4 linked regions of the Homo sapiens genome follow. The protein of the gene in region 1 interacts with the protein of each later gene in a biochemical or structural test. Each region holds a gene or a part of one and is shown in the gene's direction. Other genes may lie near its edges.

Region 1 (5,903 bases):
ACATGTGTTTTTTCTGTTTATCCTCCTCCTGTGCGCAGGTGGTTGCTGGAGGAGACGTGAGTGTGGTCACAGGTCATCAGCAGGAGCCTGCAAGTTCCAGTCTTTCTTTCACTGGGCTGACGTCAAGCAGTATATTTCAGGATGATTTAGGGTGAGTTCATACATGATGATTAGTGTATCATTTTTCACTTATGAATCAAGTCTTCCTGACAGTTGCGTTCTCTGTCCCATGTTTCTAGGAATTACGTACAGGTAAAATGATAGGATATATGAAGTGTGAATTATACATATCAGGTGCTTCTAAACTTAAATAATTGTGGCATGGATTTAGCTGATCAAAGATAAGTAGAGATAGATAACTAGCTAGATAGATATGCGTGCTACTACCCTTCCCATGGTTTCAGCTCTGATTTTGGGGCGGAGGACATTTTAGTCTTGATGTTACCACTTCATGTAATATGGAGCAAGTCAAATCTATCATTTTAAAATTTCCCGCACTGCCTATTCATCTAATATATTATCATTTGGACTGAAAAAATTCACAGTATTAAGTAACAATACTTGGATACAAAAGCATTGGAAAACAGAGGAGAAGAGAGAGGCGCATTAGAAATTTTAAATAATTTGATGCAGCTTTTCCATTGCTTATAATTGATTTTTCTCTCTGAGCTTGGGCGTACTGATGTTTATGACTTATTCTAATATAGTCCCCTGAACTTTAGCCCTCTCACTTTAAATAAACTGGAAAAAGAATGAGCTTCTCTGTACAATGAGAACATGCCATGAATATGTTAGTTTAAGGGAACTGTAAATGAGTAATAGAATTAGGGTGTTAAGTAGGATTTCATTAGATTATGTAAATTTAAAATACCAAGCACAGCATGCACTGACAATTTAAGCATCTCAAAAATACCCGTAATATACTCCTTGTCAGTAACAAAGAGAATTATGCTAGCTCTAGGTGGATGTCAGATAATTCATAACATATATGTATAGTTTTTTTTTTTTAATTTAAAACCTCTTTTTCCTTTCCTTCACCGTAGACCTCCTCAATGTAAGTCTATTACACTAGAGCGAGGACCAGATGGCTTAGGCTTCAGTATAGTTGGAGGATATGGCAGCCCTCATGGAGACTTACCCATTTATGTTAAAACAGTGTTTGCAAAGGTAAGCTTGCAAATTTTAACCACCCTCTTTTCCCCTAAACATTCATTAATAGTGGTCAGCAGCTGGCTTATTAGTTTATGGCCTGAGGTAATGCCAAATGGTTAACAGTTGATCATTTCTTTTCAAAACTCCCTACAGGAACAGGTCATTAAATATTTTTGTCCAATTTGAGGTTTCATTATATTTAAAGGAAAATAGGCTCAAATTGAAACTCCATGGAAACTCAACAATATACATAAAAATATTAATGAACTTTGGTTAGTAAAGCCTATTTTTTTTTCTTTGAACACAAATTGCACATGATCGTCTTTTGAAAATGGGACATTTTAAATAAGTATGCTGTAGAGCACTGGTATTTCTGTTTGCATTTTTTTGTTGTGAAATATAAAATAGTTATAGAGAAGTACATAAAGTACACATGAAAATTAATAAGCATTTATTTTATAAATTTAATTTCATTGAATAAAACAAAAATAACTACTGAAAAAATGTAGGGAGTATCCAGCAGCCCTATCATCTATAATAAGTCAGCGATTTGCAATCAAGGGATTCAATTAAAAAGACTGTATAGTTATAATTATATAATACCTATTCTAGCTTAAGAAGGTTTAGAATAAGAATAAAGATATTGCAGTACTGGTAAAGCTATTAAAATAATTTAAACCCATGTAATTATTGTTAATATGTTAAGTCGTTTTTCAGGGGCTACAAAATTCGACAAGATTTTCTGCAGGGAAAAATTTAGAATCTCAAAATTTTACAGTGTCAAAAGAAACAAAACTTAGTCAAACGTGTTTAAAAATTTGATACAGGGCCTTTGGATTAGTGGTATAGTTCTTTATGGATATTTTATTTTATTATTTTGGAAAAGATCTTTTTTTTAGCCAATTTAAAGTGTTGTACCTACAACAAGCTAGCTATAGGCTTAATTTATAAGATTTTTAAAAAAGCTATCGGTATGTCCAAAAATACAAACAGCATTTGCTAGTGAATAGAAGAGTCATACAGTCCTTTTCCTCAGCCTAGGAACAATTTATTTAAGGCATGCTAGTTAGAACATATTTTAAGAATTTCATCATTATGGATTCCTCATTAACTTTTCCATATTTTTAATTTTATATTTAATTGCATAATTGTCTTCTATAAGCGTGCTTTAAGATGGGGTTCTTTTTCTAACACCAATGTCTGTATTTAATCTTAATCATTTAGGGTCCATAAGGAATATGAAGAATCTCTCTACCCTTGGGAAGTAAGAACTAAGACAGCTTGAATAGCTTTTTCAAAACCACAAAAAGAAATAGCAGTGGGTTTTAAATTTAGAACTTATGCCTTATCCTGCCATAGGGAATGTTCAGGTGGCTTTGTGCTTTTGCAGACCTTTGGATTTTGTCATCCCCCAAGCCCTTGTCCTGTAAAACTGTTTTTGTTCCTACCTAATCCTTTACCTTCTTTCTGTAGGTCTTATTTACAGGATAGAAAATCCTGGATTCTATTGAATCATTCCTACTAGGCAAATTCCCAAATATTCTTTATTAATTTGTGTTCCCACCAACTGCTGTGCTGAACAGCCAAAAACCCATCCAACTGATCTATCGACTGCTAAATTCTCTCTCAAATTGGTATCTCAATGCTAAAACCATTTAGGAGAAAGACCTTCTTTGTCTATGTTCATCATTGCTTAATGGCTTAGAGCACCCATGGAGCACTGGGAGCAGTGTGTGTGTACAAGCAGAGCAATTTACATTCCTGTTGAGATCTTTTTCTGTTGTGAGTTGCAAGGCAGCATTTTTTGAGAAATAAACAAGTCTACTTTATAATTTGCAGGGAGCAGCCTCTGAAGACGGACGTCTGAAAAGGGGCGATCAGATCATTGCTGTCAATGGGCAGAGTCTAGAAGGAGTCACCCATGAAGAAGCTGTTGCCATCCTTAAACGGACAAAAGGCACTGTCACTTTGATGGTTCTCTCTTGAATTGGCTGCCAGAATTGAACCAACCCAACCCCTAGCTCACCTCCTACTGTAAAGAGAATGCACTGGTCCTGACAATTTTTATGCTGTGTTCAGCCGGGTCTTCAAAACTGTAGGGGGGAAATAACACTTAAGTTTCTTTTTCTCATCTAGAAATGCTTTCCTTACTGACAACCTAACATCATTTTTCTTTTCTTCTTGCATTTTGTGAACTTAAAGAGAAGGAATATTTGTGTAGGTGAATCTCGTTTTTATTTGTGGAGATATCTAATGTTTTGTAGTCACATGGGCAAGAATTATTACATGCTAAGCTGGTTAGTATAAAGAAAGATAATTCTAAAGCTAACCAAAGAAAATGGCTTCAGTAAATTAGGATGAAAAATGAAAATATAAAATAAAGAAGAAAATCTCGGGGAGTTTAAAAAAAATGCCTCAATTTGGCAATCTACCTCCTCTCCCCACCCCAAACTAAAAAAAGAAAAAAAGGTTTTCTAATGAAAATCTTTAAAAATACTGTCAGTATTTTAAAATTTTCAACAGTATTATAAAAACATTGCATCTCCCCACCTCTAATATGCATATATATTTTTCCTGCTAAAATTGGTTTCTACAATTGAGTAAATGGCAAATACATGAAGCAATGTCCCTAAATTTTATAAAGAAATTATATTTAATGCACATTTCAATTTTCATTCTTATTTTTGACCTTTTGTAAAATATTTTCATGTTGCTATAAGTAAATGATGATGCCACCCCATGTTGACTATGGTTTTTCTAGAAAGCAACTATGCTGCTAACCATAGAGGAACATAGAAGGGTTCCAGAATCTTTAGTGCTGGTTTTAACAACCGATGCAACATTAAAAATGTGTTAGTGTGCTGTGCAATTGGTTTTCAATTCATATTAATCTTAATGACAGAGAACAATGTGTTACTAATTATTTTGGTTGTATGCCATTAGTAAATTGATAGAAAAATTAAGGGGATTAACATAACTTCATTTCATTGACTTATATTAACATCTTATAATACAATAGTTTAAGACTAAGGGAAACAGATGGAGCTGTTTATTGAGACAACTGGTGAGGAATTATCATGTGTTCATTCCCATTTTAGAGCGTGAAACTCCTACATTAGAATATATAAAGTCACTTTAAATATCTATATTTGTAACAGAAGTAGTGTACAGATATTTTATTACAGCATTTTTGTGTAAATGCAGAATTAAAGTGAATAAATAAGAATTTTCAGTGGTGCACAAATAAGCAGCAAGCATTTTTTTTGTTCTTTTTACTGTGGAAAAGCTTTGTTATATACTGTTCAAGATTTACAACTTAAAATTGGTTTTTATCATGTCTAACTGCACATATGGTGTCCATAGTTACAGCTAAAGGAACTTTGGACAACATCATTATGGAAAGCTTAATATTTTTTACCTCCACAATTTTTTCTAGCACTAAAGATTCATAGACTCCTCATAGATGAGAGGAAGATGACATTGTAGAAAGAGAAGTATCCTGCCTGTATATGTTTTTCTCAAATGCTGTTAATGCAGTAATATTGTAAGTTGCTCTTTTGTGTGGTCAAGAACTATTCAAGTGTATTCAGATGGACAAAATCATAATCAAAATTATTTGTATTAATAAACATGACAAGTCCAACTTGAACACTGAGCAAGGAATGAGGGGAACTCTGTTCTACTAGTTTTGTACCAAATTAGCTAACAAACGTGCATTTCCCTCTCATTCATCTTATCTGTAAAATGATAGATTATTTTATCACAAAGGTTCTATTTAGTTCTAAAATATAAGAATTCCGTGATTCTTAGTTACACAAAACGAATAGAAGAAACTGCATATTGTAACAACTCAAAGTTGTTAACCAATCATTGTAAATTTAGGCGCTCAATGTAACAAAACTCATTTTAGTATCCCAGTGACACATCTACCTTCTTAGCCATCATTTAGTGGCTCTCCATAACGAAAGATGCCATTATTTCATGGTAGGCTGCTGGAAGATGAACTAACCTCACATCTGAGTTTGAGCTAGCAAAGAATTTTTATAGAGGATGCTCCATACCAGACTGTATGGGAGAAAGCCACCCAACCCCTTCAAGTTTCATAATGTCTAAGTGCCCCCAACAAGAACAGCCCAGTTTAAATAGTGTCTTCCCATGATTCATGTCCATCTGGAACCTCAGAACGTGACCTTTGGAAATGGGGTCTTTGCAGATGTAATGAGTTAAGTTCATGCTGATTTAGGGTGTTCTCTATCCTAGGACTGGTTTCTGTGTAAGTAGGTATTGTGAAGGCACAGACATAGGGAAGAAGGCCCCATGAAGATGGAGGCAAAACAAAACAAAACAAACAAGCCAAGGAATACCTAGGGGGCCCTCAAAAGCTGGAAGAGACAAGGAATGTTTTTTCCCTAGGGCCTTCAGAAAGAAGTTGGCCTTATTGACACCTTGATTTCAGGCTTCTGCCCTCTATACTGTGAGAAAATAAATCTCTGTTGTTTTAAGCCACAGTTTGTGGTACTTTGTTTAAGCACTGGGAAACTGTTAGAGTATCTTAAATGTTGGTTGCACGTGGTGGCTCATGCCTGTAATTCCAGCACTTTGAGAGGCCGAGGTGAGCTGATCTCTTGAGCTCAGGATTTTGAGACCAGCCTGAGCAACATGGTAAAACCCCGTCGCTACAGAAAGTACAAAAAACAAAAAAAAACAACTAGCCAGACAGCTACTCGGGAGGCTGAGGCAGGAGAATCACT
Region 2 (9,417 bases), on another chromosome or scaffold:
ATCTATTGATTTCAAGCCATCAAGAACATATAACAATTATAAACATATATGTACCTAACAACAGAGCCCAACAATTATACGAAGTGAAAAATAAAAGAATTAATGGGAGAAAAAGGTAGATCTATAATAATATTTGGAGATATCAATACTCCATTTTCAATAATGGACAGAACAACAAGACAGAAAATCAATGAGGAAAATAGAGGACTTGAACAACACTATAAAACAACTAATTCTAACAGACAGATACAGAACATTCCATCTAATAACAACAATAAATACATTTTTTCTCATGTGCACATGGAACATTCTCTGGGATGGACCATAAGTTTTACCACAAAACAAATGTCAATACATTTAAAATATTATTATTATTTAAAGTATCCTAATACATTTAAAATATTATTATTCAAAGTAGAAATCAGTAACAGAAAGAAAACTAAAAAATTTACAAATATGCAAAAATTAAACAATATTAAACAACCAATAAGTGAAAGAAGAAAATACAAATGAAATTCAAAAATATTTTGAGAATGGCAGAATAAAAACTTAATATACCAAAAAATTATGGGATGCATCAAAAGCTGCGCTCAGAGGGAAATTTATATCTGTAAATGGCTACATTTAAAAATAAAATGAACTCAATTAATGACCTAACTTTATACCATAAGAAACTAGAAAAGTAGAGCAAGTTTAACCCAAACTCACAAAATAACTGAAATGATGAAGTTTAGTGGAAATATAAAAAATAAAGAATAGGAAAAATATAAGGACAATTAATAAAACCAAACGTTTTCCTTTTTTTGAAAAGATCAAAAAAGTTGACAAATCTTTAGATAGACAGACTAAGGAAAAAAGAGAAGACACAAATTACAAAAATCAGAAATGAAAGTGGGGGTATTACTACTAACCTTACAGAAATTAAAAGGATTGGCTGGCCAATCCTCCTGGTGTGGTATCTCATGCCTGTAATCCTCGCACCTTGGGAGGCCAAGGTGGGAGGATTACTTGAGCCTATGAGTTCAAGAGCAGCCTAGGCAACATGGTGAAAACCCATCTCTACAAAAAAAAATTTAAAAATTAGACAGGTATGGTGCCACATGTTTGTGGCCCTAGCTACTCAGGAGGCTTAGTTAGGAAGATTGCTTGAGCCCAGGAGGTTGAGACTGCAGTGAGCCATTATTACACCACTGCAAACTAGCCCAGACAACAGAGCAAGATCCTATCTCAAAAAAAATTAAAAGGATTATAAAACAATACAATGAACAATTATACACCAGTAAATTAAATAACCTGGATGAAATGTAAAAATTTCTAAAAACACACATACTACCAAAAGTGACTCAAGGAGAAATAATCTGAAGAGTCATATAAAAAGTAACTACATTGAATCAGTGATCAAATACCTCTCAACAATGAAAGCTCAAGACAAGAAGTTTTCCTTTTGAATTTCACCGAACATTTCAAAAATTAACACCAATTCTTCTCAAACTCTTCTAAAAAATAGAAGATGAAGAAACATTTTGTAATATATTCTATTAGACTGGCATTATCTTAATATCAAAGCCAGCTAAAGACATTACAAGAAAATTATAGATTAGTATTGTTTATTAATATAAATGCAAAAGTCTTCAATAAAATACTAGCAAACTAAATTCAGCACCATATTATATACCCATTACTAAATGGGATTTATCTCAGGGATGCAAGAGGGATTCAACATACAGAAACTAATCAATGTAATGTATCACATTAATAGAATGAAGGTATGCAAACCACATGATTATGTCAATTGATGCAGAAAAAGCATTTGCAAAAGTCCATCACTTTTTTATGATAAAAAAATGTTCAACAAACTAGGAATAAAAGAAAATGTCCTTGACAGGCATTTATAAAAAACAAAAACAAAACCCAGTCAATAGTGAAAGACTGATTTTCCTCTAAGATCAGGGAAAAAAGGCAGAATGCCCAACTTCATTAGTTCTATTTATCATGGTACTGAAAATTCCATGTAGAGAAATTAGGCAAAGAGAGGAAATAAAAGGCAGAGGAAAATTGGAAAAGAATAAATCAAATTATTTCTATTTGCAGAAGACATGATCTTATATATGGAAAATCCCAAAGAGTCAACACAAAACATAGCTCTAATAAATGAATTCAGCAAAGTTGCAGGACATTTGTAGTTCTATACACAGTGATGAACAATCCATGAAAGAATTTAAGAAAACAATTCTATTTACAACAGCTTCCAAAAAAACCTCAATTGATAACAGCATCAGCCACAAAGAAGAATTAAGTATTGATACATGCTACGAAATAGATAAACCTCAAAAACATTAGCTAGGTGAAAGAAGCCAGACCCAAAAAGTCACAAATTGTATGATTCTATTTATATGAAATATCCAAATTAGTTAAATCCATAGACTGGATTAAGAAAATGTGGCACATATACACCATGGAATACTATGCAGCCATAAAAAATGATGAGTTCATGTCCTTTGTAGGGACATGGATGAAATTGGAAATCATCATTCTCAGTAAACTATCGCAAGGACAAAAAACCAAACACTGCATGTTCTCACTCATAGGTGGGAATTGAACAATGAGAACACATGGACACAGGAAGGGGAACATCACACTCTGGGGACTGTTGTGGGGTGGGGGGAGGGGGGAGGGGTAGCATTAGGATATATACCTAATGCTAAATGACGAGTTAATGGGTGCAGCACACCAGCATAGCACATGTATACATATGTAACTAACCTGCACATTGTGCACATGTACCCTAAAACTTAAAGTATAATAATAATTAAAAAAAAAAGATAAAAAGCAAATTAGAGATTGCCAGGAGCTGGTTGATGGGAGAATGGGAAGTAACTGCTTAACGGTATGCAGTTTCCTTTTGGAGTGATGAAATGTTTCTGAACTAGAGACAGATGCTAGTTGCACAATATTGTGAATGTACTAGATGCCATTGGATTGTACACTTTAAAGAGATTAATTTTATGTTGTGTAAATTTTACCTCAATAAAATATATGTCACGCTGAAGGTATCATTATCATGATCACCATCATCATCCCTATAGAAAATAATGCTTCCTAAATTTCACTTTCTTTAAAAGGTTTAGATTATGAGAAAATATAAGCAGACTAAAATTTGAGACTATAGTCAGTACAATTTGGATGACGTGTTCTTGTCTTCTCTCTGTTCTCTTTCAGATTATGTCTGGCCACTACCTAGATATTTGTGCCCCGTCTGGATTTCTTTAGATGTTTTATTTTCAACAGCGTCCATCATGCACCTCTGCGCTATATCGCTGGATCGGTATGTAGCAATACGTAATCCTATTGAGCATAGCCGTTTCAATTCGCGGACTAAGGCCATCATGAAGATTGCTATTGTTTGGGCAATTTCTATAGGTAAATAAAACTTTTTGGCCATAAGAATTGCAGCGGCTATGCTCAATACTTTCGGATTATGTACTGTGAACAACGTACAGACGTCGACTGGTAACATTTGCGTTTGATCGGGTTCTTTTATTTAGTAATTATTCTTAACCTATTTATCTGATATTTAGGTTAACAATAATGAAAGGAATGTAATGTGTATTAATATGTAAATATAAAGTTTCCATTTATGCTGCTAAATTATTTTATGCATTAGTATGCCAATGAATTCTGCAACACAGATACAAAATGTTTGAAATATTTAAAATGCTTTGAAAATGAGAAAGACATAAAGTCTAATTAAAGTCTAAATTTTAAAAATATAACATTTCAATCTTATATTGAAAAGTTACATGTATCCCAGAATATTAACCTTAGTATTTTTATTCTAAATTCCTATCCTTTTCAGTAGAAAAATTAATAATGCAATCTAAATCATCATCAAGTAAATATGTCTAAATTTTTGTTGCTATGACACCTAAAATGTACTATTTTCTCTCAGTTTTAATTGTCTTCTTGAATTCTGGGTATACAAAAAGAAAAAAAAATTTGTTTCTTTAAAGATTTGTAGCAGTTTAAAGGGAAAGAAATGATCATTTATTGCTTATATTTGAGGTATTCATAAATGCCTTAACAGTGCTAATATTAAAGCCAAGAAATTTAAACAATTGGACTTTAGGGGTTTTACTTTCATGTTTTTTTCCTTTTCCAGTTGGTGTAAATAATTTTTCTTCATATTTATGTTTTTGTAAAGATTGAGGTAAAGTGTGCAACAAGATCAAGACTTCTATTTAATCTTCACTAATATCATCTAAATATTTTGACTCTGGGTTTATTGATCAAATACATTTAAGTTTTAAGATTGTTCTATTGTAGATTGTTCTGCCTGTGTATAGCATAGACACCTTTGAATAAAAAGTCGTGAAGCTTGTCCCAAAAGACAAAAATGAATTTACGTAAGTTTGACTTACAAATTCAAGAGTTCACAGATTTTGCCCTAGCCATCACAAAGAGTTCATCTAAAAAGATGCCAGCTTTTATGGTGCTTACAAAGGAAATACACAGACAGAATATTGTTGCATCAGCTTCTAGTAATGAAAGACTGAGTAATTTGCAATGACTCTTGTGCTAAAGGCAAATAAACACATGGATAAAACACTAAAAGCCCTAAGAAGCTAATGAAATAGAAATTGCTATTGGCTAAGATCCAGAAAAAGACAAAAACCCAAGAAAAATGATTATGACTTCTAGTTCACTTTTGCCAATGATGCATTATAAACCTGAAGATATGACTGACAGGTGGAGACGATCATTTCAGACTCGCAAGCAATGGAGGACTAGAGTAGGAATACAGAGTCTGGCAAGGGCCAACCAACCTGAATTTAATTCTGGGATCACAAAAAAACCAGACACTAGGAATAAGGATCGACCAGGATTAAATCACCATAGACATGGAATTCAGCCCTGGTTCAAGTCATCTATGTAAATGAGAGAAATCTTGGGCCTTAAAATTGGATTAAGATGATTTCGTATTATTCAGGTTTCCAATTTTGGGGCATAAACAAACAAAAAAAACCCCATAATCCTAGATTTCAACTTATTTCTTTCAATAATTTTCAAATGCTGTCACTGAAATACAATGATATGCAGATATATGAGGAGACAATACAACATGAATCAGGTATGGGACAATAAGAGATAACAGAAATAAACTTACAAACACTTCAGATAATTGAATTATCAGACATACACTTTAAATAATCATTTGGAATGTGCACATGGAAATTACATGCTGATCTTAAACACTTCAGCAAGAAACTGCAAACTATAACAAATGACATTAAGATTTGAGAAACACCTAGAAAATATGGAACTTAAGCATAATATGAAAAACTAAGGGCCAGGCAGTGTCTTACACCTGTAATTCCAGCACTTTGGGAGGCCGATGCAGGCGGATCACTTGTGGCCAGGAGTTCAAGACTAGCCTGGACAACATGATGAAACCCCATCTCTACTAAAAATACAAAAATTAGCCAGGTATGGTAGCACACGCCTGTAATCCCAGCTACTTGGGAGGCTGTGGTGGGAGGATCACTTGACCCTCAGAGGTCAAGTCTGCAGTGAGCTGAGATCATGCCACTGCGCTCCAGCCTGGGCAACAGAGTGAGACTCTGTCACACACACAAAAAAAATTAATTAATTAAAAAATGAAAACCTAAGAACTCTGTGGCAGATTAGAGATGGCGAATTTCCAAATTTACAGAAGATTATTATAAAATATTAAAAATTAGCTGGGTATGGTGGCATGTGCCTGTAGCCCTAGCTACTCAGAAGGTTGAGGCAGGAGCATCACTTGAACTCAAGTGTCTTGAGGTTGCAGTGAGCTATGATCGTGCTATGACACTTCAGCCTTGATGAGAAAGCAACACTTTGTCTCTACAAATAAAAGATAAAATGAAATAATAAGATAAATCCAAAAGGAGTCAATAAAAGATAGAAAAATATAAAACGTATACTGAATGGCAGAATTAAAACCAAATATATCCCTAATTATATGAATTACTAAGGATTCTAAGACTGTCATATAGGCTTTCAAAAAAATAAGACAACTATATGTTACAAGAGGCATATATAAAGCATAAAGAAAGTAAAAGGATAAAAACAAACAAAAAAATTCCTCCATCTAAACACTATCCAAGAGAAAGACTGTATAGCTATATTAATATTTGTCAAAATAGACTTTTCGGCAAAAAACAAATACTCCAGTGAAAGAAGATTACTTACTATGAAAGATTTAATACATCTGGAAGACATAAGGTAATAAATTTGTATGTACATAATTATATGTAGATACATATGTAATATACATAGTATATACATTATAAAGTAAAAGAGGACAGAACTTCAGGGACAGATAGACAAGTCTACAATCATCGCATAAGATCTTAGCACATCCTTCTCAGCGATTGTATGAAAACAATTAACAAACCTGAACTCACTGACAAGTGAAGAATACATATTCCCATCATTGCACAAGAAATATTTATCAAAACTGACCATAAAGTAATTCCTCAACACATTCCAAAGGGTTGGAATAAATTGTTTATTCTTTGACTGAAATTCAAAAGAAATAGAAATGACTTCAAAATAGTAGAAAAACCTTCGTATATTTGGAAATTAAGAAATTGTTTCCCAATAAACTTTGACCTAATGGATTTCAAATCCATTGATGATTCTTCCCTAAGCTATCTATTACTAAGGTGATACAATGATAATTTTTCTCATTTTATTATTCTTCCTGCCTTTATTTGTTGGTATTATACTGTAAGGAAGTGTTTTCCCTCCAAGTCTTTGTTATTTATTAGTTCATGTTGGTGGAGACTCCTGGATTCTTTTGTATTCAGTGTAATATATATGATTCATTATTGCCCTTAATTATTTTGATGCTCAAATTGTCTCATATTTTTCTAATAAGAACTCCTTTTCATATATCCCATCAGCTTTTGAGCATTTGCCAGACTCACCTTTTACTTTCCATGCCCCAGTTCCGAAATTAGCCATTTCTTACAAGAAACCCTTTTAGTGGGCAATGGTTTTATAAAGCAGGATGCAGAAGCTCAGTATGCTCATTGCTAATAGGATATCATTGCTCCTATATATCAATACCTTTAATCCCAATTCACGAACACAGGACTCTTGCTACTTTCCAATTCTTTATTTTTCCTCATTTTTCTCACAGTGAGTAACTTTGTCCCCAAACCATTGATATATTTATTATTTATATTTTCTATATCCTACCATACAAGAAATTAATTTCAGAATTTCTATACCCATACCACTACCAATAAATGAAATGCAATGTTTAAAATTTCATTGCAATTTTATCTTTAGAATGTTTTCCACCAATGGCATATAGTCAAAGCATTGTCTTCAAAATGCTAGGATTAGTTTGAATTTTTTTTCTCTGTGGTTCTGATACCAATTGTTCACATTTAGGGATTTTGTTTTGTTTTTGCATGTATTCCCCAACCTTGTTGACTTTATTTTTTAATATGTAAAACTTTAATATGATGCTCCAACAGTCAAAACTAGGCAAATAAAATACTCAGAGAAGAGTCAGTTCCTCTTCTATTCCGTGGTTAACCCATTCATTAGTTTCTAGGGCATACTTCTTGAATTTATTTTTGCAAAAAAAAAAAAGATTATACACAAATACACGTATTGTTATTTTTCCATTCTTAAATTAAAAGTTAAAATGCTACATACAAATTAATACTTTGTTTTGCTTTGTTCTTTTACTTGGAAATATGTCCTGGAAATCACTCTATCAATTTGTAAGATGATAGATATGCACCCAACTTTATCATGTAAATGGCCTAAATACTCCAATTAAAAGCTAAATTCATTCTATTATTTTTTACACTCACTAATAATAGATTGTGTTGATATACTTTATTTAACCAATCTTCTGTGTATAATCAGGTAAGTTGTTTCCAACATTTGGAAGTTGCCAATAATTCTACTAAGAATAATTGTGTGTGTGTGTGTGTGTGTGTGTGTGTCCTTTGTGTGTGCGTGCGTGCATGTGTGTCTGTCTTGTGTGTTTGTGTGCGCGCGCGCGTGCATGTGTGTGTTTCATATTATTGGAAGTTTAACTTTTAAATAAATTCTTGCTCAAATGTATTCAGAATTTATCTTCTAAATAAATTCTTAGAGGAGGAGTTGATTGATCAAAGGGTACATGTAGTTAGGAGTTGAACCATTTTGCATTCCCACCAGCAATGCAAGAAAGCCTCTGTTTCCCCAAAGCCTTGCTAATGAAGTTTATTTTCAAACTTTTTAGATTTTGCAAATCCCATAAGTGAGAAATGTTACCTCAGTGTAATTTTAATTTGCATCTATTTTATTTGGCTGAAGTTCATATGATTAAATGTATGAAAACCACTTCAGTGCCATTGCTAAATCAGTTTTAAGTGTCCTTTTGCTCATTTTTTCTGATTTTTTTTCATTTTTATTTCTTAATTTAATAGCTCTTTATAAGTTATAGACACTAACCATTTAACATGTTATAAATGAAAATATTTTCTGTTTGCTATTTGATATAGCTATGGTATTTTGCCATACAAAATTATTTTATTTTCATGTAGTTCATCTTGTCAATCAGATTTCCTTTTTATGTTGAGAGTAATGGCAACAAATTCTTTCCCCTAACTCAGGTTGGACAATAAATCACACATATTTTTCTCATTTTTACATTTAGACCTCTGATACATTTGGAGTTTATTCTTGTACGTTGTGACATACACATTCAATTTTAGTCTCTTAAAACTAATTCTTCCATTGTCTCATGCTATTTATTTAAAAAGTCCATCTGTCCTGTGATATGAGATGCCATCTTTATAGTATATTAAATATTCTTATATGCCTGGACATGTTTCTGAAGTTCACATTTTATTCCACTACACTGTCTAATCAAATGCCAATTTCACACTTTTAATTATAAATGCTATTACATAAATGTTATTATCTGATATGGTTAGTCCCTATTCATTAGGCATTTTTTAGAGCTTGTGTAGACATTACTGAAAGTTTAATTTTCCATATTAACGTTAACATTAACTTGCCTTGTTCTATTCTAAAAGCCTGGATATTTTGACAGGGATCTCCTTAAATTTATAATTTAATTTAAGAAAAAATGAACAACTGAATTTTAAAAATGCTTTCTCTAATCTGTATACTAATTTAGGTGGTGGCCACTCTGTCTTCCAAACTTTACTGCCAAACCTATATGTCACTCTCATGTCTTCCTTATCAACATTTATAATGTATCTCATAAGAATCAATTTTTTAGCTTTACCACAAACCAAATCTGTCTTCTATGCATTCACTAGTGACTACTTAATTGTTTAATTTATGAATTTTCAAACTTTTTGGTCTAGTGATCTCTGTATACTCAAACATTATTAAGGA
Region 3 (9,416 bases), on another chromosome or scaffold:
AGTTCTGTTGGCTCTACCTTTAAAACATACGCAGAATCTGACCATTTCTCACAAACCCACTAGCACTACCCTAGTGAAAGCCACACCATCTCTCACCTGAAACTGATGTTCTTGCTTCCCTCCCCCTCCCCTCTTGAACCCATTCCATTGGGCTGTTATTCCAACTACTCCACTGGAACAGTTCTTATCAAGGCCACCAAAGACTACCATTTTGACAAATTTTACGGTGATTTCTCAGTCCTTATTATACTCAGCTGGTCAGAAGGCATTTCACCCAGTTGCATACTCATTCTTCTTGGCCATCTTTCTTTTCTTTTACTTTAGGATTACACTTTCTCTTTGTGTCTCTCCTAACTCACTGGGTGCCCCTTTTCATTCTACTTGGCAGGTTCCTCCACACTCTCTGACCTAAACTATTGCAGTAATCCATGGCTGAGTTCTCAGACCTCTTCCCTTCTTTATCTCCACTCACTCTCTTAGATGATTTCACCTAGTAGCATACCTTAAATACCAATATGCCATTGGCTATTTGATGTCTCTTCCCTAAACTCTGTACTCATCCATGCTACTGCCAACTATTTCTTGAATGAATGAAGGCAGGAACTATGCTCATCTTCATGGTTATACTCAGCACCTATAATAGTGCTTGACACAGCAGTCAATTATCAACTGTTAAATTAATGAATATTGTTCAACTCGGTGCCACTGTGAGAAAATTAAAAAGATAGATGACAGTCATTAGCTAATTTCAAGTAGTTTTTTTTTTTAGATACAAGCCAGTGCCATAATAGAAGGCAGTTCATGATATTGTTTTCTAAATATACATTGGTCCGATGGTCTGGCTTGTTCCAAACCTAAGTATCAGAGCACCAAAAGGAAGTGATAGATAAAATGTCAGTCAGTAAACCCTCTGTTAATATTTTTTTCCTCATTCTCAGGCCATTAGTAATGTTTGAGCAGCAGAAATCTTAGAGACATATTCTTAAATATCATAGAGTAAAAGAATTCTATGCTGCCAATTCATAACAAAATCAGGCATAATCAATTGAGTGAAGGTTAAGGTTGGCACTGTCTTGCAAAATTAAGCAGCTTAAAAAGGACAAACGTAACAAAGAAAAGGGACCTATTCTATGTTCCTTTGAACAAGAAAAAAAATAAATGTTGAAACCCCAAATGTCCAGGCCATTTCAGTTTCTCAGACTACAATCCATTAAATAATCATTTAATCACAGTGACATGGATGAACACACAGATACACTGTTGAGTGAAAGAAGCGTGACATAGAAGACTGCAGAAGATGCTACAGTCTTTGCCTCCACTAGGAAGGAGGGCCACATGTGTCCATTTAAGTTAAAGTCAAAAAAGGATAGGAGAGTACTTTCAAAAATGATGAAAATGGTGGATATCTTAATTTGGGTGATGGTTACATGGGTGTACATATTTGTCAAACTCAGTGAATTGTATACTTAAGAGCATTATGTTTTAATAAATTTAAAATATAACTCAATTTAGACAAAATTAAAGTGTCTTTCAATGAGTGTTCTGGATGAAGAGGAATGAAATAAATATAAACAAATTTCCTTACTGCAGGATCTCTTACAGCTTTTAATATGCAATTATGCACTGTATATTTCTAAGAGGAGACTATAAGATACAGTAATGTTCCAGACTTAATTGGTCAAGGAACCTTTTTTTCTCATATACATTGACATATGTAAGACACTACAGTTTCAGAAACCCAATAACTTTAGCCTGGAAAAAAATTCAAACAAAGGCTACAAATACCACTGAAGTCATTGAGAAAATATTAACATCTAATTTTAAGCAATCACTTTCTAGTGAATCTTCCAAAATGAACTAGTTATAAAATGTATTCCTATATATGGTCCAATTAAGAACTAGAGAAATTCTGCCCAAGATAATAAATATAGTTCTGGTATTGTTAACCTTAAATTCCTTCTGGCAGTAATTAGATAGCAAAGCCAGATGTATATTGAAGAATTCTAAGCTTATGGCAAGGAAGCATCATTCATCATCACATAGACAACACTTATCTGTTTTGTGTAAGACATCCAACTCACCCAGAGATGTTATTCAAGGCATTAATACACAGCTAAAGATGATAGGTCATAGGTTGAGCTCCCCAGGAAGCTGACTCTGTGACTGATGTGTGTGCAAGAGATTTGTGTGGGGCGAGCTCTCAGATCAACACCGGCAGGGGAGCAAGAGAAGCCAGACTGGACAAGGGGAGATATTTAACTTGGATTTGACACAACAAAGGCCTCAGTGAATCCCATAGAAGCACTGGAACCAAAGTTCTTCAGCCATCAGGCAAGAGGGCCAGCCCTTTATATCCTCACAATGGACCAGTCTTTGCATGCTGGCTGCCACAGAGAAGGGGCATGACCACTGGCAAGCTGGCTTCCTTGGCTGAGGGGAGTGTTCACAGAAAGAGTGGAGAGCCAGCCACCAATCCTTCCAGCAGCAGGGAGCCCGAGTCTCAGCCCTGAAGCAGAAGCTGGGCGAGGCATCACGGTGCGCACTACAGCAGCCAACACACACTCGTCTCACCAAACTCACAGGGGCATCTGCCCAGCAAGAAACTATTCCTACCTAATCTAACCCTCATGCTATTAACCTAGAAGCTCTGTTTAAGAATCAGGAGCCTAGATTATGCCCCTACTGCTTTGTCCATAACAAGTATTCATAAAATTGCAATAAAAACTAGAAATAATCTTAGATGGTAGCCAAAAAAATATTTCCCAGTGTAAACCACATAATAAGAAACACTGATTAGTTTTGGCATGACTAGAAGCCTAGCTGTTCTTCATGAGAAATAATGGACTGAGATCATCAGAATTCTCTAAGAGCTATAACAAGAACATCTATAAAATTTAACCTCAGAAAACTTTTGAATAACTTCCTGACACTGGAGTATTTTTTATATTACATTTCCCTCTGCTATCTTTAATAAAATTAAATTGGTATCCCAATAAACAAAGTAACAAGAAAAAATGAGAGGTTCTAAGTTTCTCCCTGGTTCTCCTTTTTAATAATCAATTCATCTTAATTTATGCTAATAACAATTCAGTCAGAACACATCTGTTGAGGACCTTCCATTATGAGATACCATGCTTAGATACCACATGTGAGGTTTATGAATTGCATCTGGGTGGATAATATAATAGTATAAGATAGATGTAATATAGATTACATCTATATTAAGGGTATGGAAATGAAGTTCAACATCTAATAGAGAAGACAGACATTTACACAGATGTCATGCATTCATTCAACAAACATACTTAAGCACTATGCGCCCAGCTGTTAACAAGATAGACACAGTTCCTGCCTTTATGAGGCTTACATGAGACATGATGTGTTAAAAATAGAAGGCTGCAGAAGGTGCTATAGTCTTTGCCTCCACTGGGAAGGAGGGCTACAGAAAGCTTAGGAACAGTAAACTTAGTAAGAATAATAGCAACTAACCTTTATTGAGTGCTTAAAATGTGCCAGGCAAATATGTAAATTTATTTGGCTTTCACGTCAATCCTGAGGTCTTTTTATTATTAATGTTCCCTACTTGCGGATGAGGAGACTAAAACACAGAGATTAGGTAGCTTAATCACGCTTACAGATGTGGTGAGTGGTAGGCCTGGGATCCAGAGCTGCTCTGGAACTAAGCACGAATTTGCCAGATGGACACACACAAAAAAGGAATGGTAAGAGCACTCCGGGCACAGGGAAGTACAAGTACAGAGACATAAAAATGGTCAGAAACATGTAAGTTCAGTCTGCATACAGGCTGACTGGGAGAGTAACCAGAGTCCAGGCCTGCAAAGTGGGGCAAGCAGGGTACAGGTAGATGAAGAAAAGTGTTATGTGCCCCACAAGGAAGGGACTGCAGGAGTGTAGGCATGGGAGTGATGCCAATTGTGTCATTAATATCAGTAAGAATATCAATAGGAATGAAAGTGGCTGACATTACTTGAGAACCTCCTATAAGCCAGACATGGGCCAAATACTTACACACATTATCTCAGTTTAGCTTCACTACAATCTTATGAGGAAGGTATTATCCCATTTTACAAGTGAGAAGACTGAGCTTTAAAGGGAGCAACTAGATGAGGCGAGGTTCTACTGTTTATGAGTGATAGAGCTAGGATCCAAAACCAAGGAACTCTAAGGTCTGTGTTCTCCGCTGCCTGCTCGCCAGCGTGCATATTTAACGTGGAGGGGTAGGAGGGTGGCAGGCATGGCAGTGAGGGGGGCACTAAGGCACCCACCCAGGAAATAGGTGGCTAGATCTCGACCACAGGGTGCCAGCTGCAGGCTGCAGGAGAGGACATGTGAGAAACACGCATACAGAGGTAGCACCGGAGACGAAGTGGGATCTGGCAGCGAGAATGAAGGAAGAGTCGCGGATAACAGCAGCTGTCTGAAGAGGTGGTGATTCCATCATGCAAGCCAATGGGTAGGAACAAGCACTGAGAGCCGGGCAGGGGGATGCGGAGTGAGGGAAGATGCTGAGGTCAAGGTCTCCCAGGCTACCATGGAAGGAGCCAATGGGCAGCTAGAGATTTAGGTCTGGAACTGAGAGAAATAATCAGCTATGAAGGTACAGACTTGGCCACAAACATATTGAAGGCATGAGAGTGGTTGAATTTGTCCAGGGAGAATGTGAAGAACAGAAGGTGATAGAACTGTAGCAAAACCCAACTATTGAGGAAAATATTTTCATGCCTGCAAAAAGAGAGAGATCGAACTGCCTCCTTTAGAAACCTACTTGGGAAAGGGCTTTCTTTACAAGTAAGGCAAGTTGTCATTACTGGTGGGGGAAAAAAATTGGTACTGCGAAACCAACTTATTTCCTACCACATGTGAGGTTTTGAATAATATCTGGGTGGCATATTTCTGCTGAAGAAAATAAGCCAGTTCAATGGTGTATCTATTAAATAAAAATAGTGCTAATAGTTTATCAGAGTTATCACCACAGACGTGCCTAGCCACCCTGAGCCTATGTGGCCAATGTCAGTAATTCCACTCTGGACACAAACACTGTTGGCTTTGGATGGAAGTGCCGGACACTCACAGCACTCCGAGGACATACTGTTTTCTAGCCTTATTTATGTTCTCTCTTCACCCTTCAGCCTAAAAAATTACCACAGTGCCACTTACCTACCTTAATGGGAATCTGCACAAAAGGCCATTTCTCCAGTTTCTCTCAAAAGCAAAGGAAAACTTCCCAATATTAATATGTAGCAAAAAGAGGGAGAAGAAAAAGCCTGTTTGGTCCGCCCTCCTGGCTGTTGCTACCTTGCAGCTTATGACATACACATAGAGGGAGGTCTGATGAAATGAACGAGACAGTCAGAGAGCTACTCCATTCCCGTGGAAACCAGGAGTCCCTTGGTGCAGACAGCTCTTCCTACTTTCCCATGCAGTTCTTTTGTGCGACTTTGAGGGGCTCGTGAATGATTTCTAAATGTGTGCCTGCTGAGGCGAGCCGCACAGGGAGGGAGGAACCCAGCCGAGCCGTGCCAGAGGAAGCCAACAGGATCCTAGCAGTGCGGGAGCTGGCTCAGCTCTTGCATGCAGTTTTTGAAGTCAGCAAAACAGAAACCAAATTACTATCATATTATGCTGGTGGAAGATCAAGAAGAGGGGACTCTACACCAGTTTAATTACTGTGAGAGATGCAGCGAGTCACAGAATAACAAATGTATCTCATGTGTGGACCCTGAAGACAAATGTAAGTTCTCATGCCGCTATATTTTATTGCTGTGTAATTTTCTTTCCGGTTTGAAATCATGCTTGGCCAACATGTAATCATTTCAATGAGAATTTCCAGGGAGGAAAGTTGTCTGCTAATCTTTACTTAAGACTTTTTTGTTTTCCTTTTATTAGCTAAGCAACATTATAGGAGCTGAAATTCCTGACAGCAGCTGTGGCAATTCAGCTTAAGAATGGCTGAGAACTGTAACCCAAAGTACATCCAATTACTATGGGATTAACACTGGATGTATTTTTAATTGACTTTCTTAATGTAGAATGTGTACATCCCCACTGTTTCTGATTGCATGCTATTTTAATAATACTGTTGCTAAACTAGTACCATCGGCATAACCAACAAAATGAGATATAGTTAAACAAGAGTCCCAGTAGTTATAAAACTTTTCTTCTTTGTCCAGGACATTTATCTTCCCGAGCGCTCAAAAAAAACCCTGCAACCTCTATGCTAAAAGTTCATTCTGCTTTTTTGTCCTCGGTTTGGTGAGAAAATAATAAAACCAAACAGTGGACTCTCCTAAAATTGTGAATGAAGAAAACTTACAGCCACCACAGTTCAGTTCTTTAACTATCATTGTAATAATGGAAGACAAAAATCCAGCCCCGGGAGAACAGCATGTACACCAGCCTCAGTGTTACAGAGTGTGGGTACATCAAGGTGAATGGTGAGCAGAAACTATAACCTGTTAGTCCTTCTACACCTCATCTGCTACAAGTTCTGGCTTAGACATGGATATTCTTTGTGAAGAAAATACTTCTTTGAGCTCAACTACGAACTCCCTAATGCAATTAAATGATGACACCAGGCTCTACAGTAATGACTTTAACTCCGGAGAAGCTAACACTTCTGATGCATTTAACTGGACAGTCGACTCTGAAAATCGAACCAACCTTTCCTGTGAAGGGTGCCTCTCACCGTCGTGTCTCTCCTTACTTCATCTCCAGGAAAAAAACTGGTCTGCTTTACTGACAGCCGTAGTGATTATTCTAACTATTGCTGGAAACATACTCGTCATCATGGCAGTGTCCCTAGAGAAAAAGCTGCAGAATGCCACCAACTATTTCCTGATGTCACTTGCCATAGCTGATATGCTGCTGGGTTTCCTTGTCATGCCCGTGTCCATGTTAACCATCCTGTATGGTGAGTGGCATTAGTTTCCCAGCTATATTCGCACTGGTAATAAAGAGCATGTGCATGCCACCAGCAGATGAGATGGGGCTCAGGGGGCAAACAAACTATAAATAGAAGTCTTTGTTTATAGACTAGAGCCTACTATGTTACTTATATTTTACTCTTAAAATGGGATTTCACATAAAAATCAGACAGTCTATGACCTGTGATCACTGGAGAGTTTTGTGCTTCAAAACGCGTACATCCTGTGTAAAAATGATCATTGGAGAGTTTTGTGCTTCAAAACATGTACATTTAATGTAGAAATTTTTATAAATTACCCCATACAGTCATAAACCAATAACTTACCCATCATTCTGAATCTACTTGATTTTTGCTTCTTTATATTCCCAACCAATATTCCAGCCTTCAGGACAGAACAGTTTTAATCTTTGTCACACAGTTTTCAGCACTTTTAATGGAGTGATAAAGCCTTCCCAATTACTTTGGAACATTTGCAGAGAGAACATTAGTGGTGCAATAGGTTTTATGTTAAAATATGCAGAACCTCAATTAGAATAAATGAATTACTCCAGTTTTAATTGTTCCCTGCCCAGAGAAGCTAATTTGGAAATGTGCCTTTGAATTATATCCTCAACTCTTTGAAAATGCATATGCATAAACTCCTCCAGTCTGGTTTGGAGGAGGGTGGGAAACAAATGGGAAGGGATTAATCTTGCTTTCTTCTCAACAGAGTTTGAAACAGTCAGACCTCTCAGCAAGGGACCAGAATGTGATATTCTTTCCAAATTATGAGTAATACAGCCAGATACCTCCTTAAAGGAGAGACTATTGTGACTGCTGACACAGGCACAAGCAGCAGTCACTCAGAGCTTAGAGACAGGTTATGATAGCTATCTTTAAAGGGAAATTTTCTGGTCAAGTCTTAGGGGCTAAGATTAAAAAACATCAACCCAGCCCTAGAGAATGTGAAGGAGGAAGGCGGTACGCAAGGGCGAGCAGGCGCCAGTTTGCACAAAGCTAGTAACACTCATTCCAAGTCCAGCCTTCACTTGACCATTTAAATGCCACACCGGAATGATTTCATTTAATTTGCCTGCCCTTTCCCCGGCATCCCGGGGAAGATTCTCGCTTCCCAAACCCCCTCCCCTAGGGGGCAAACTCCAGTGGGGGTAGGAGGAGTGACAGAGCGGGACCCAAAACAGAGGCTGGAGGGTGGGGTGACCCCCGGCGTCACCCGCTTGGGGAGCAAGGGCGCCCCCTGGCGGCCGCCGCTCTGAGAGCAGCCCGTTCCCTCCGGAGCCCCGCCCCTCCCTAGGCTGCTCCTCCAGCCTCCCCCAGCCCACGGGGCGTGGGGCATGGGGCTTCTCCCACAAGGAAATGCCCCCTCCTTATCCCGCATCAGAAACACGGACTGAGGCCTGGGCCGCCTCCTGGCAGAGAAACCCCTCCGAGGGCCGACATCTGTTCCGAACAGACAGAGCGTGGCTTCCCCCATAAGGCGCTGCAAAGGAAAAGGCTTTCCTTTCGGCTCAAGCTCTTTGCAAATAATACATGTGAATGGCTGTAAATTAGGCTTGTACCTACGCCCTTTACTTGTCTAAATATCCCTTGTGGCATTTTGGTAGAGAGTGTACGTTTGCGTTGGAGTTTGTTCGGCTTTGTGGGTCTGTAATAAGAAAAGTGGACTTTAAAATTTTCCTTCTTACATGCAGGCAGATCTAACTCCGCTGCTTATACTGTGATCAAAACTAATTAAGGTTTACATAACTGCTTAATCCCCCTCCAAAACACAAAACCAGGACACTTTGTTTATGTCCATAAAGCACACTCTAACCTTCCTCATATAGCAGGTGACCTGCAGTATCTCTTACATTGGAATTGTCTGGGGAGCTTGGAAAAAGCTTTGCAAACGCTTTGACATTTGATGTCCACCTCAGCCCACCCTCCAAACATGATTTAATTGGGCTGGGTTTGGCATGGGCATCAGGACCTTCTCTAAAGCTCTCCAGCTGATACTGATGTGCAGCCAGGGGTGAGAGCCACTACCCTAAAGCAGCTATTCACAAAGCGTGGTCCCTGGACCAGCAGCATCAGCATCACCCGGGAGCTTGCTAATTCAGATGCAAATTCTACAGCCTGCTCCCTACTAACTGCATCAGAACCTCTGGACGGAGGTCCAGCAGTGTGTGTTTTAAGAGGTGTGGCAGAGTCTGATGCTCACTAAAGTTTGAGAAATGCCTCCCTAAAACAAAGCTCAGAGCAAGGACACCTTTCTTTATTTTTCTTCACCCTTGTCTTCAGCTCTCCCTACACATACCCCAAATTTGAGTTTGGCACCCAAAGCATTATTAGATCATTATTTTTCATTTTTACAAACAGACATATTCACAATCTGAATTTTTAGTCATTTAGTCATTTGCACTAATGCAATTTATTGCCATCACTGTATGGGACTGGATGGTTATAATAATGACTAAGAGGTGAGACTAAC
Region 4 (5,676 bases), on another chromosome or scaffold:
AGTTGCATAGCCCTGGAATTATTACTGAAGTTGCTGGATGCCCATACATTTGAAAACAAGCTGAGGGCATTGAGGAGGGATAGTAAATGGCCCTTGTCTTGCAGGTATGACATAATGAAGACTTGCTGGGATGCAGATCCCCTAAAAAGACCAACATTCAAGCAAATTGTTCAGCTAATTGAGAAGCAGATTTCAGAGAGCACCAATCATGTGAGTATACCCTGGCCAGGCATAGAATCCCCCTTCTCCCAGTTCCAGGTGTGTCCTCCTCCTCAGGCTTTCAGGGTGAGGACTAACCTCCCAACCCCTTCTCTCCTAATCTTAGGTTGCAAATTGGGCTTCAGGTAGGGGAAGTAAAGCAATGGAAACTAGTTCTTTCTGCCCAGCCCTCCTGTTCTGAGCCAAAGAAGGATGTGAGATTGAGGGGGAAGGGTGGAGAGTTTTGTACTCACTGGAAGTAGAAGTTTCCATAAGGATTTGCCATGTTTCCTCCCTCATCTCAAATGCTGGTCACGGGGTCAGTATTTTCTCCCTCTCACATGTCAGGGCCATGCATCCTTTGGAGGGTTGGGGTGATGTGAACTAGAATAAAAGCATAGAAAAGACAGCTTGTTACTGCAGTGAAATAAGCCTTCTGATCAAACAAGCATAGCCAGAAAATGGCAGATAGCTGTCATGCCCACAAGCCATATAGAATGAAGAGCTGTTTGAAGTTGGGAGATCCCTCCCAGTGATTTGGGAAGTGTGGGGGAATGAAAACTCAAATCCATTATTTCCTCTCTTTTTAAGCAAGAATTAGTGATACTTTGACTCAGATTTTTTTAAGCTGCTTTCTTTCCTGGGCTGTGTGCTTGGAGCTATCTTTTCTTTCCTAATAGCACACCACTGATAATTTTTGGGTTAAAGCTTGTTCTTCTGGGTGTCAAAACATGTTTCAAATTGAACAGCATTTTCCACCCAGTTGCTTTGATTCTTGACAAGAGACCCCTGGAAGGGCCGTGGGTTTCCCAGCAAATTACATTGGTTATTGGGTTGTAGTTGCTGGAGAGATTTACAAGCCTTTTAAATAGGTAAGATAGTGCTTGGTGCCTGGTGTGCCCTTTTAGAAGAGCTAAGCTTGTGCATGTTTTGTCCCCACTTCTTGTATAAAGTTATTTCCTTGGAAAAATGAAGGGGGAAAACAAAGCTTATATTTGTTTTGTCAGTATGACTTGGGTTTTGGCCACAAAGTTCTTGGAAACCACTTCTCTCTTAAGAGTTTCCATCAGTTAGTTGTGATCTTGACACTGTAAGTATGCCTTTTGTTGCTATGTTCGTTGTAGGGACTGCTGTATTGACTATGGGCTTGTTTTCTCCAGATTTACTCCAACTTAGCAAACTGCAGCCCCAACCGACAGAAGCCCGTGGTAGACCATTCTGTGCGGATCAATTCTGTCGGCAGCACCGCTTCCTCCTCCCAGCCTCTGCTTGTGCACGACGATGTCTGAGCAGAATCAGTGTTTGGGTCACCCCTCCAGGAATGATCTCTTCTTTTGGCTTCCATGATGGTTATTTTCTTTTCTTTCAACTTGCATCCAACTCCAGGATAGTGGGCACCCCACTGCAATCCTGTCTTTCTGAGCACACTTTAGTGGCCGATGATTTTTGTCATCAGCCACCATCCTATTGCAAAGGTTCCAACTGTATATATTCCCAATAGCAACGTAGCTTCTACCATGAACAGAAAACATTCTGATTTGGAAAAAGAGAGGGAGGTATGGACTGGGGGCCAGAGTCCTTTCCAAGGCTTCTCCAATTCTGCCCAAAAATATGGTTGATAGTTTACCTGAATAAATGGTAGTAATCACAGTTGGCCTTCAGAACCATCCATAGTAGTATGATGATACAAGATTAGAAGCTGAAAACCTAAGTCCTTTATGTGGAAAACAGAACATCATTAGAACAAAGGACAGAGTATGAACACCTGGGCTTAAGAAATCTAGTATTTCATGCTGGGAATGAGACATAGGCCATGAAAAAAATGATCCCCAAGTGTGAACAAAAGATGCTCTTCTGTGGACCACTGCATGAGCTTTTATACTACCGACCTGGTTTTTAAATAGAGTTTGCTATTAGAGCATTGAATTGGAGAGAAGGCCTCCCTAGCCAGCACTTGTATATACGCATCTATAAATTGTCCGTGTTCATACATTTGAGGGGAAAACACCATAAGGTTTCGTTTCTGTATACAACCCTGGCATTATGTCCACTGTGTATAGAAGTAGATTAAGAGCCATATAAGTTTGAAGGAAACAGTTAATACCATTTTTTAAGGAAACAATATAACCACAAAGCACAGTTTGAACAAAATCTCCTCTTTTAGCTGATGAACTTATTCTGTAGATTCTGTGGAACAAGCCTATCAGCTTCAGAATGGCATTGTACTCAATGGATTTGATGCTGTTTGACAAAGTTACTGATTCACTGCATGGCTCCCACAGGAGTGGGAAAACACTGCCATCTTAGTTTGGATTCTTATGTAGCAGGAAATAAAGTATAGGTTTAGCCTCCTTCGCAGGCATGTCCTGGACACCGGGCCAGTATCTATATATGTGTATGTACGTTTGTATGTGTGTAGACAAATATTTGGAGGGGTATTTTTGCCCTGAGTCCAAGAGGGTCCTTTAGTACCTGAAAAGTAACTTGGCTTTCATTATTAGTACTGCTCTTGTTTCTTTTCACATAGCTGTCTAGAGTAGCTTACCAGAAGCTTCCATAGTGGTGCAGAGGAAGTGGAAGGCATCAGTCCCTATGTATTTGCAGTTCACCTGCACTTAAGGCACTCTGTTATTTAGACTCATCTTACTGTACCTGTTCCTTAGACCTTCCATAATGCTACTGTCTCACTGAAACATTTAAATTTTACCCTTTAGACTGTAGCCTGGATATTATTCTTGTAGTTTACCTCTTTAAAAACAAAACAAAACAAAACAAAAAACTCCCCTTCCTCACTGCCCAATATAAAAGGCAAATGTGTACATGGCAGAGTTTGTGTGTTGTCTTGAAAGATTCAGGTATGTTGCCTTTATGGTTTCCCCCTTCTACATTTCTTAGACTACATTTAGAGAACTGTGGCCGTTATCTGGAAGTAACCATTTGCACTGGAGTTCTATGCTCTCGCACCTTTCCAAAGTTAACAGATTTTGGGGTTGTGTTGTCACCCAAGAGATTGTTGTTTGCCATACTTTGTCTGAAAAATTCCTTTGTGTTTCTATTGACTTCAATGATAGTAAGAAAAGTGGTTGTTAGTTATAGATGTCTAGGTACTTCAGGGGCACTTCATTGAGAGTTTTGTCTTGGATATTCTTGAAAGTTTATATTTTTATAATTTTTTCTTACATCAGATGTTTCTTTGCAGTGGCTTAATGTTTGAAATTATTTTGTGGCTTTTTTTGTAAATATTGAAATGTAGCAATAATGTCTTTTGAATATTCCCAAGCCCATGAGTCCTTGAAAATATTTTTTATATATACAGTAACTTTATGTGTAAATACATAAGCGGCGTAAGTTTAAAGGATGTTGGTGTTCCACGTGTTTTATTCCTGTATGTTGTCCAATTGTTGACAGTTCTGAAGAATTCTAATAAAATGTACATATATAAATCAAGTGGAGTCATTTGATTGTTGAGATTCGTTGAGATTAAACTTTAAAGCATTAAAGTGCAATCATCCTGACAAAGTTTTGTACGCAGTTTTCATAAAATATGTGCAGGGCTATCAGATCACGCTAGGATTTACATGCTTCGAGATTCAACAGATATTAAGAATTTTCATACGTGTGATATTTTCTCATTTTAGTCTTACAACCTGAGGTCTCTATTTAAATTGAAAAATAGATACAGAGAAGGTGCTTAGTATGTATGAGCTGGGTGCTGTCATGTGGGTGAAACATTATGCATGCCCAATTGGTACCGTCCAGACCACTGGAACCCAAACAGAGGCTGAGAGTTCTTCAGCTTGAAACAAAAGGAAGCACCCTGAATCACATAATCTTATTAAGAATGAGGCACCCACACACCCTCAGTCATGACTGTCTTTATTGACGTGACATCTACACCTGCAGAAATGTCTCCTGAAAGGAAAGGGAAGGGGTGAAAAGTGACCTGTAATGAAAAGGAATCCTTTTAAAATCCAGAGGGAATTGTGTGGCAAGGAATGCGTCAATAATCAGTGAAAAACAGACCCACATTTCAGTCAGGCAATTCCCATTATTTTATTGCAGACAGGAATGAATGCTAATTGACCACAAAACAAAGAAGTCTTTTCTTTCCAAATGTTTTCACTGTCATTTAGCCTTTGTCATGTGTGAGAAATTTGCGTTAGAAGCAGTTGACAGTCCCCTGTGTTAAGAGTCTAGCTAATTTTCCTCACCAGCCTAGCTTTTCATTGGAAAGGAATACCAGGTCTTGGTGCCCAGGCTCAAACTTGGTTCGAATCTCAGTGCCACCCCTGTGTCTACCACTTAACCACTGTGTGACATTAGGCAGATTAGCTCTTGAAATCTCAGCTCATGGGAGTAGTGTCTACCTTGATGTATTAATGTGAGGCTGTCAAGACCAGCTCGTTCATATGCCTAATAAGTTTTTCCACGGCCAATTCACCTTATTAAGCAGGGAGGGCGGTGTTCCTGTACTGACATAACCCATGTAAAATTATACAGTCAAAAGCTTGATTCTAATTTTCTTTCTCTTAGGTGCAAACAGTATTGTACAAGTGTGTTGCACAACTTGACATTGCTATAAAGATTTCTGGGTGGTGGTGGTGGTTTTTTTTTTTTTTAATCCCAGTGTTTGACCAGGAATTCAAAGCTCTCTATTCTTGCTCCAGCCTTCCTTCCTACTTCTCTCCTATTATCAAAGGCCCATGAGTATGCCCCATGCTCTTCTCTGCTTCCATTCTCAGACTGCATACTGTCTCTTCTCTCCAGCAAGACCCCATCTTTCAAGACCAGCAAAATCATCTCAATGGGAAGCTGTCGCTGAACTCCCACAACACTCTTTACTTTTTATGGCTCTTACAATTGATTTTTTTATTATTTTGGCTTTTGTCTTGTCCCCACCCATACTATATCCAGACTTAAAATCGGTTAACATAAAATTCCCGTATGTGCCAGGGTTACTGGTGTCAGTGGTATCATTTACTTGTTAAATATTGAATTGTCCGGACGCTCAGGGGTTAAATTGCCCAAGAGGTTGCAAGAGTTACATTTTGCCCAAGTTCATGGAGCAGTACATGAAACCAGACTTGGAATCCAGATCTGTACCTCAGTGATGGCAAACACCTGGTCTTCCCATGCTGGTGTCTCCCACCACCCTGGCCATGCAGACATCACTCATCTGCCACCACACCCTCCAACTGAGCCCAGGTGCCTTAGAAGTCACAGTCTTTTCCAACAAGCTGATAGGAGTCAACTGGTGTTAGCCTGCAGAGAGACTTACCTGTCCCCCTTAAATGATGACCAAGTTTCCATCTTCCTGAGGGACAGATGTTCTTCATCTCAGACACCCCAAAGCTGCTAGCAGAGTACTTCAAGAGTGGTTCTTTTTGAACAAATAATTAAACATCCCATCAGTGTTTGGAGTGAGAGAGAGCCATTAGGGAGGAAATGGGCCCAAGAAAGAGAGGAAATAGAAGAAGA

Evidence for each region.
Region 2: the proteins of MPDZ (region 1) and HTR2C form a complex in vitro, tested with the Homo sapiens proteins (3 studies listed by BioGRID and IntAct, with this or other methods).
Region 3: the proteins of MPDZ (region 1) and HTR2A form a complex in vitro, tested with the Homo sapiens proteins (2 studies listed by IntAct, with this or other methods).
Region 4: the proteins of MPDZ (region 1) and KIT form a complex in vitro, tested with the Homo sapiens proteins (2 studies listed by BioGRID and IntAct, with this or other methods).

What each region holds. Positions count from the first base shown.
Region 1 is NC_000009.12:13,104,200-13,110,102, reverse strand, and holds the end of MPDZ (multiple PDZ domain protein), read left to right. Parts: intron 1-38; coding exon 39-151; intron 152-1,043; coding exon 1,044-1,167; intron 1,168-2,991; coding exon 2,992-3,138; 3' UTR 3,139-4,396; downstream 4,397-5,903. UniProt on the Homo sapiens protein: Member of the NMDAR signaling complex that may play a role in control of AMPAR potentiation and synaptic plasticity in excitatory synapses. Promotes clustering of HT2RC at the cell surface.
Region 2 is NC_000023.11:114,844,784-114,854,200, forward strand, and holds part of HTR2C (5-hydroxytryptamine receptor 2C isoform a precursor), read left to right. Parts: intron 1-3,219; coding exon 3,220-3,420; intron 3,421-9,417. UniProt on the Homo sapiens protein: G-protein coupled receptor for 5-hydroxytryptamine (serotonin).
Region 3 is NC_000013.11:46,893,010-46,902,425, reverse strand, and holds the start of HTR2A (5-hydroxytryptamine receptor 2A), read left to right. Parts: upstream 1-5,372; 5' UTR 5,373-5,752; intron 5,753-6,191; 5' UTR 6,192-6,519; coding exon 6,520-6,931; intron 6,932-9,416. UniProt on the Homo sapiens protein: G-protein coupled receptor for 5-hydroxytryptamine (serotonin).
Region 4 is NC_000004.12:54,737,071-54,742,746, forward strand, and holds the end of KIT (mast/stem cell growth factor receptor Kit isoform 1 precursor), read left to right. Parts: intron 1-104; coding exon 105-210; intron 211-1,358; coding exon 1,359-1,487; 3' UTR 1,488-3,645; downstream 3,646-5,676. UniProt on the Homo sapiens protein: Tyrosine-protein kinase that acts as a cell-surface receptor for the cytokine KITLG/SCF and plays an essential role in the regulation of cell survival and proliferation, hematopoiesis, stem cell maintenance, gametogenesis, mast cell development, migration and function, and in melanogenesis.